Linked DNA regions of Homo sapiens. The protein of the gene in region 2 purifies or fractionates together with the protein of the main gene of each other region. This does not show direct contact. Each region holds a gene or a part of one and is shown on either strand. Other genes may lie near its edges. The genes, in order: BDH2 and PFKFB4.

What was found.
Region 1: the proteins of PFKFB4 (region 2) and BDH2 purify together in Homo sapiens (affinity purification with mass spectrometry, with the first as the bait; one large-scale study listed by BioGRID). This does not show direct contact.

What each region holds. Positions count from the first base shown.
Region 1 is NC_000004.12:103,089,611-103,093,420, forward strand, and holds part of BDH2 (dehydrogenase/reductase SDR family member 6), read right to left. Parts: intron 3,087-3,810; coding exon 2,990-3,086; intron 1,676-2,989; coding exon 1,567-1,675; intron 1-1,566. UniProt on the Homo sapiens protein: NAD(H)-dependent dehydrogenase/reductase with a preference for cyclic substrates. Catalyzes stereoselective conversion of 4-oxo-L-proline to cis-4-hydroxy-L-proline, likely a detoxification mechanism for ketoprolines.
Region 2 is NC_000003.12:48,553,711-48,558,313, forward strand, and holds the start of PFKFB4 (6-phosphofructo-2-kinase/fructose-2,6-bisphosphatase 4), read right to left. Parts: upstream 3,094-4,603; 5' UTR 3,068-3,093; coding exon 2,971-3,067; intron 2,524-2,970; coding exon of another isoform or gene 2,376-2,523; intron 1,234-2,375; exon of another isoform or gene 1,215-1,233; intron 300-1,214; exon of another isoform or gene 153-299; intron 1-152. UniProt on the Homo sapiens protein: Synthesis and degradation of fructose 2,6-bisphosphate.

The DNA.
Region 1 (3,810 bases), on a different chromosome or scaffold from region 2:
ACCTACTTCCTTTACTAAAATTTGTAAAGCATTTTAGAGCCTGGTTTTGCAAATGAGTCTCATGCATGTGCAACAGTCTTACCCACGATGACCTAAGCTTTCCTCCTATACCACAGTCTCTGCTCTACCCCTGTAACCTATGCAAAGGATCTGTCTTCAAAAATACATTCGTGTTCCAAATACTATAGTTTCTCATAAACTCCAAATAGGCTAAAAAATCAACTTACATTAAAAAAAACAATTTGTTATAAAAATTTGCTAGTTCAACATTCTGTGGACCCACCCAAAAATCCCTTCTAAGCACTAAACAAGTAGATTTTTCAAAGTCCCTTCATTACTAAGTCAGTTTCTCTAATTTTCCTGTTAATGTTCATCTGGAACCTTCTTAACATTAGGTTGAATATTCAGAGTAGAATATCAGCCCTGCTGTGCCATTAACAAAGCTCTTCTCCTGCCCAGACATGGACAGGACATCAAATCCAGCTGGGATGGAAGGGAAAAGTTGTTCTTCTGCATTTCACTAGGTTCAATTTACAACCTTGAGTTGAGCTGGCTCTGTACCCAGTCAACCCCTTTCATTGTCTCAGCCTGCACTGTCTGCTACTACTGGTTTATAAGCTCATTTGAAATCAGGGATGTACGCTGCTCATGTTTATACTCCCCTAGAACACTTTATATAGTGATTTATACCAAGAGGTACTTAATGCTAGTTTATAAAATAAAATTTTAAACATTGATGCGTTGTGTGAAGGCTTGAGAATTCAAGGAGGAATGCTGTCTTGAGCACACACTGTCTCTCACCTGCCCAGTACCACTGTGGTTCAGATCAAAACAAGAGCGAAGGGAGAAGCTTCAGGGCAGAGAAAAGCAATGGGGTACATCCCTCTTGAGAGTGTGAGCCTAGACTGAAATTCACGAAGGGGCTCAACGTCCAGGCTTCAAATCTTGGTTCTAACCATGTGCTAGTTGGGTGACCTTGAGCAAGTTGTCTGAACTCTCAGTTTCATCTTCTGAACAATGGATGAGATAATAGTATCTACCTCATACGATCATTCCAGTCTCGTGTGCCTCCCTGCTGTTACCTCTGCCTGGAATCATCTCCCAAGGTACCTGAATGATCAGCTGTCTCACTTCTTGGACTGCTATGCCAGTTTCACCTTTGCGGTGGAGTCCAGAGGGGCCGCATTGATATCCTAGCTTCTTTCTCTTCATTATATTTAAAACCACGCCACATATTCTATGTCTATTTGATTACTAATTGTCCCATCTCACCCCCAATAATGGAACCTGCCTTATAGAAGGCACTTTGTTTAGTTCACTTATGTGTCTTCTGTGCCTAGAATGGAGCCTGGCATGTGGAAAGTGCTTAATAAATATTCCTTGAGTGGATGAGCTGGAAGGTTAAATAGATTAATTTATGTGAAATGCCTTGATATAAATGTTCAATGCAAGTTAATCATTGTGTTAGTTATTATCACTCTTCAGCACATGTGGGAATCCCTTCTGTGTGCCCAGTACAGAGACCTAATGTGGTGCTTATCCTGGTGGTGGTGGTGGTGGTCTTACTTTAGGAAGGAATGCCTTGATCATCAGGTACATGCTGCGCACATTGAGATTCATCGAGAAGTCCCAGTCTTTCTCCTCACAATCCAGGACAGTTCCATGATGGACAAAACTAGAAGAGTGATTAAACAATGGAAGAATAACTGCCATTAAAATTTTTCTATTCCATCTGCTGATTATTTTTATTGTCACTTAGTGACTTAGACCACTGTCTCTTTCCCTTATCAAGACTTTAAACAATTCATAGTATCACTTAGTATATTATATTAGTAAGAATCCCAACAACTTAAGCTAGAAATGTCATCTGAAAACAAGATCCTTGTTTTCCAAACAAAAGTATGGTCACCGAACATAAGAAGCTTTATATTAATTGTGCTGGAAACATCAATGCCATTAAAAACAAACAACAAATAAAGGCGAACAGGGCTAGGCATGGTAGCACACACCTGCAGCCTCAGCTACTTTGAAGGCTGAGGCAAGAGGACCACTTGAGCCCAGGAGTTTTAGGATGCAGTGAGCTATGATCATTCCACTGCCCTCTAGCCTGGGGAACCAAGACAAACCCTGTTTCAGAAAAAAAAAAGAGAGAGAGAAAAAACATCTGCCCTATTTGCCTATGTGATTCCTATTTCAAGAGCAACAGTGCCCTCAGGTGGCACAGATTTAGAATTCTCAAGGGAAATCAAAATTGCAAGGAAAACAAGTGTCTGAACATCTCAGAGCAGCAAAGTGATACTGCTAGTGTTCTAACATACTGAGAGATGTTAGTTTGTTGTAAGAGAGACGTTAAGGCAGAACAAAACAAACCCGTAAAGTAGCTTTCACTATTTTTCAAGTTACGTTTTCTGAGGGAAGCTTCCAAAACACTGGAACCCTTACTGATTTGGTCCTCTGGACCCAAATTATGTAATTCATTATAAAATATTGTTGGCTGTGACTTCCATGTACCAAAGCTCTGCTATTTCAGTCAGAATGTCAGTTTCATGACAGCAGGAACCACATGATTATTTCTACATCCCCTACATGGCTGAAAATTTAATAGATGCTCAGAAACTAACTTTGCTAACTATTTGTTTCATGTTTCTGGGTGTATTCTTACATGAGGATGGAAGACTATTTATAAAATAGATGATCAGAAATTATTGCTTTAATTTAACTTCCATACATTGTAACACATAATACAGCTTTGTATCAGTACCATCTGTCTTGAGTAGACCTCATTTGCCCCAGATCATGTCAAACTCTAAGGCTGTCTTACCTGCTGAATTTTATGTGTAATGAAAATGCTGTGTAAAATCTAGCCATATTTCCCAAGGAATATGTCATGGTTCACAATGAATGATTTTGCCACATTATGAAAATTCTTTGAATGAAAGTCATAGAAAACTTTCTGTAAGGAAAGTGAAACTAAAAAGTTATGAATTACCCAGCAACATTAAAGAGAACATCAAGTCTCTCAACTTCATTGGCAAACTGATCAATTTGTTTCTTCTTTGTGACATCAAGGACACGAGTTTGAATACCTGAAAAATAAAACAAGAGGCACTATTCCTAAAAATGTTTAGCCTTGAAGGTTTAGCTGTTTTGAAGTGTGAAGTGTGAAGATTGCAACATCTATCCAGCTAGGCTTCATAGATTGCTGACCTTCTTACTAGGGTCTTAAGAATCTTCAGAGTCTCATTAGTAAACTTAAAGTCCATCTTGACTCCTCCAATAACCCATCCGTCCCTCTTCCTTCCTCTCTGTCCATTTTCCAAGTTGAATAATAAGGGTCCTTTCTGAGCAATGGCTTTATAGTAAAGAATGACTGGTGTACATTAGATGTTTCTCAGTAAGCCAGCAGTAATAACTGAAAATGGGCTCATTTGAAGTTCTTACAAACTTCAAACATTAATTTTCTCCTCTTTGCAGCTTTTCTCTTAATTTTCTCTTCTTTGAGGTATAATTGAGAAATAAAAATTGCATATATTCAAGATGTCCTTCCCCTATCCTTCCCCTGCCAGAGACTGGGTTGCTGGTACCTATACAGTAATCAGAATTTTGTCTGAGTGAGGGGTGGAGAAGAGCAAGTGTTCTGGAATAAGAGACTGTTTCTATTTGTGAGCTTCCCCTTTATGTCATTTCCATTATTTATTAGAAATGACTCTGTTAGTCAAGGGTATCCAGTCAAATACATGTATTTCTGGACTAAACTGCAAGGAGAAGAAATGAGAGGGTCAGAAGAAGGGATGACACCCTTGAAGGCTA
Region 2 (4,603 bases):
ACTCCTGAACTGCAACTGCTCTCACCTCCTTAGGCCAGGCTAGGGAAGGAAGAGCTCTTTAAAATAAAGTAACGTGCCATGGAGGCCCTTTTCAGAGGGGACTGAAAGTCATCTCTCCTGTTGCCCTGTGCACACACCAGTCATGTCCTTACCCAGGAAGAGTCTTGCCACCTTTCAGCTGAGAAAAGCCATCAAACACCGTCCTTTCTGCAGTCCTTCTTGAGTCAGCTCTTGCCCCACCTGCCCTCAGAGTTCCTCCAGGTCTGAGCTCGGAGGCCAATGATGGGAAAGGTAAAAGCCTCCCAAGCCCTCAGGTGTGGCTTTAAATTTTATCAAGCGGGGGCGTGCCTGTGGGAGTGGAGGAGGTGCAGTACATCCCTCAGTCCACCAGCCCCTAGTGCCCTGAGGAGCTGGGGACTAGACTCCAGAGAAAACCCAGTACAAAGCACAGACCAGCAGTGGGTCCTGCTTCTTCCTCCCCACAAAGCCCTGGGACCAAATCCGCTTCCATCCCCACCCACACCCTCCGGGTCCAGACTGTCCTTGCAGTCACTCAACCTACAAGTCTACTATGCAAAGGGTAAAGTGTTGCCCAAATGCAGGCACTGGGAGCTGGAGGTGCTGCATGGGCGGGTTCCATGTTCATTCACTGCTTACCCACTCCCTGCTGTGAACCCTGAGGCCCAAATCCCCAAACAACCTGCAGGTCTCATCTTTGGCCTCTCAGGTGCTACCTCCTCCTCCAGGAAAAAGTGCGGACCTAGAACCCAGCCTACCCCAACACCCTGAGACACCGTGATGGCACGAGCCCCTCAGCTCAGGCCAGAGCCACATTTCAGTTCCACACTTAGAGCCTGGAGAAACACAAGCCCTGCCTCAGGAGCTATGAGACCTTCCCATTGGGCCTCAGCTTCCTCTCACCTGTAACGGGGGTTGGCTTGGAGCTGATGCATCAATCCCTGACTCAGACGTAGTGAGAAGCAAAGAAAGAATGGTAGTGATGACAGAATACCCTGCCTCCGCTTATTGAGGACCTACTCCTTAAAGGCTCACAGACTTGGCTAGGCATGGCAGCTCATGCCTGTAATCCCAACACTTTGGGAGGCCAAGGGGGGCAGATCATTAGAGATAACGAATTCAAGACGAGCCTGGCCAACATGGTGAAACTCCATCCTACTAAAAATACAAAATTAGCCGGCCATGGTGGCGCATACCTGTAATCCCAGCAACTTGGAAGGCTGAGGCAGGAGAATTGCTTGAACCCAGGAGGTAGAGGTTGCAGTGAGCTGAGATAGGACCACTGCACTACAACCTGGGCAACAAGAGTGAAACTCCGTCTCAAAAAAAAAAAAAAAAAAAAAGTCCAGGTCCTCACTCCTTTCCCCTATGTAGTAATAGCAGCCACCCCCCTAAGTCAGGACCACACAGCCCTAATAACACAGACTGGCTCAGCCTCCCCGCCTCCAGAAGAGTCTCAAAGGAGGGGTGGCCATAGCCCTCAGGACTGAGTGTGCATTATAGACAGCACAGCCCCACCAGGACCTACATCACAATCAAAGCCATGAGTTACCACGACTTGGTCTGGTCAGAAACATGGCCTTCCCCTGCCAGGACTCACAGTGTGGCCAGAAATACACACACCCTTCCCCCAGGACTCATATCATGATCAAAGCCATGGCTCCAGGCTGCTGCAGCAGGATGAGCACAAAGAACTCTCCCCTTGCTTATCATACATAAGCAGAGGCAGGATCACAGGGAGACCCAGGCATGTCACTCAATCTCCTGATCTCCATTTCACTGTCTGTTAAACTAGATGTTCTCTGAGGTGCTGGACAAGCTGCAAATTCATTACAATGTTTCAGTTACTCCTAAAACAAATCTTTCTTTTCCTGGTAATAAAAAAGTTGCAGGCCAGGACCCACGCCTGTAATCTCAACACTTCGGAAGGCCGAGGCCAGAGGATCCACTTGAAGCCATGAGTTGGAGACCAGCCCAGACAACATAGCAAGACCCTGTCTCTACAAAAAAAAAGAAAAAAGAAAAAAAAAAGCTGGGTGTGGTGGCGCACCTATAATCCCAGCTAATCGGGAGGTTGAGGTGGGAGGATTGCTTGAGCCCAGAAGGTCGTGGCTGCAGTGAACTATGATCGCGCCACTGCACTTGCTCCAGCTTGGGCCACTGAGCGAGACTCATCTCTTAAAAAAAAAAAAAACTGCCAGCTCATTTAAGGACAGGCAGAAACTCAAGGAAGCGGTTTAAACACCTGGGACCCTAGGAGAGGTGAGCCCCTTAACAATTCCATGAATTTCAGCATTCTCCTAGCTGTTTCACTCTCCAGTTTTACTGTACACCCATGACCCCAGGTGGATACTTACATGTCCCGGGACACAGACACAGGCCCACACGGCATACTTTTCTGTCTCTATCCTGAGCACATCTCTGCTGAAGTTCCTGCCCAAGCTCAGCTTTAAGGCCAAGAGGCACCCTTCCTCCTGTTGGAAAACTAGCCCACCTTTGAAAGTTCTGGGCTCAGAGAGGCCAAGTAATTCACCTAGGGCCACACAGCTCAGTTCCAGTCCAACAACCCGGCCCACACTCCTTGGCCAGGAGAGAGGGAAGGGCCTGGGGTGCCCACAGGGTCCTCCCCAGACTGGGGGCGATGGGGATTGGAGAGGGAAGCGAGGGGGCCAGAGCCCTCCCCGAGGTGATGGTGGCCAGACCTAGCCACCGCCAAGCCGATATGCCCCCACACACCTGTCCCCGCCCCCTGCTCTGCCACACCTGTCTCTGGCCCACCACTGTCACGACCGCCTCACCTGTCCCCAGCAGCCTCCCCAGTCACGGCAACCTCACCTGTCCCCGGTTCCCCATCTGTCTCCCGCCCCTTCTCCATGCGAGACCCCCGCCCAGGCCGCCCTACCCACCCATCCCGGTGCACCTCCCACCTCCTCCCAGAGGACCCCGCCTCACCACCGCGCTGGCAAGCGTGCAGAGCGGGCCGCCCATTGCTGTATGGCATCCAGATCTTCTTCAGGGGGTTCTGTGTCAATTCCCGTGGGGACGCCATCCCGGGGCCGGGATGAGTCGGACTGCGCCGCTTCCAACCCAGCAGCCGGGCCACCTCGGGCCACCCGAGGTCCCGCCCCTTGGGCCCCGCCCCTCCTCAAGCCGCGACAGCCCATGTCTATCTTCCCGCAGGTCCCGCCCCAGAGTGAGTAGGCTCCGCCCCAGCTGAAAGGGGCCCGGCCTCCGACCACGCATGCCCAACTCACCTACCCGCCCGTTTTGGAACAAGTGGGCCCAGTTCTTCAGGCCAGGATCGAGAATGCGCATGCTCAACTCCGGATTGTACTGGTCCCGCCCCAGTTCAAGGCCCGGATTGTGCAGGCCCGCCCCGGATGCGCAAACTCAGCTCTCCCAACCTGCCCGCGCTGATTTGCATAGGCCCCACCTACGGGCTCCGCCCTGGCGCTGCATCCCTGAGCAGCGGCACGCGTGAATTCTGCTACCTCCTTGCTAGGGAGCCCAGGGCCCCCAGGAGGGAGGGGTTTTCATGCAGTGGGACGAGGCCTACGTGACCCGCACGGCCAGGTTGGTCAGAGCCGACAGGGGCCAGTAGGCCTGCAGTCCCAGCCGTCAACTCCGCTGCGCCCTCCTGCCCCTCCTCGGGGTCCCCCTTGACTGCTCCGAGCCCCGGGACTCTTCCGCCGTCCATAGGAGCATGCTCAACCACGCTGGAAAAGCTCTTTTACCTCATGGATAGAGACTCAAAACACATTTCAATATTGTTCCTCTTTCTTTGCTTTGGCTGCTGGGAGCAAATGCGTGGGACTTTTTTTTTTTGAGACGGAGTTTCGCTCCTGTTGCCCAGGCTGGAGTGCAATGGCGCTATCTTGGCTCACTGCAACCTCCGCCTCCCGGGTTCAAGGGATGCTCCTGCCTCGGGTTCCCAAGTAGCTGGGATTACAGGCGCCCACCACCACGCCCTGCTAATTTTTGTATTTTTAGTAGAGGCGGGATTTCACCACGTTGGCCGGGCTGGTCTCGAACTCCTGACCTCAGGTGATACGCCCTCCTCAGCCTTCCAAAGTGCTGGGATTACAGGCGTGAGCCACCGCGCCCGGCCGTGCGTGGCACTTAGTAACCAAGTACTTTGGGTACTCACTAAGCCCTGGGAGTATCTTAATCGTCTTTCCAGAATTTCATTTTTTACAATTTTTTTTTGATTTTTAGTATTTTGGTTTTTTTAACTAAAGTTTTACATATTTTTTGAAAATAATATGTTAATAACATTTTCTCTTCAGGAAAATGGGATGTGCACATTGTCTATCTTACAGTATTACAGTATAAATTAAGTATGTCAATCTCTAAGAAATTCATTTTAAAATACGTTATGGTTGCCTTTTACTATATTTGTATCTCCCTCTTGTCTTTGAAAATGCACTGGGGACAAGGAACAAGGGAGAGATCCAGAAGTTCCTAAACCCCTGGCTCACTTTCTTGTTTGGCCCCCACCGGACTCCTGCAGTTTCCCGCCTCCTCGGGATCCCCAGCCCCGCCTCTCCAAGCTTTGTACACTCTCTGCCCCAGCCCCCACCAACAC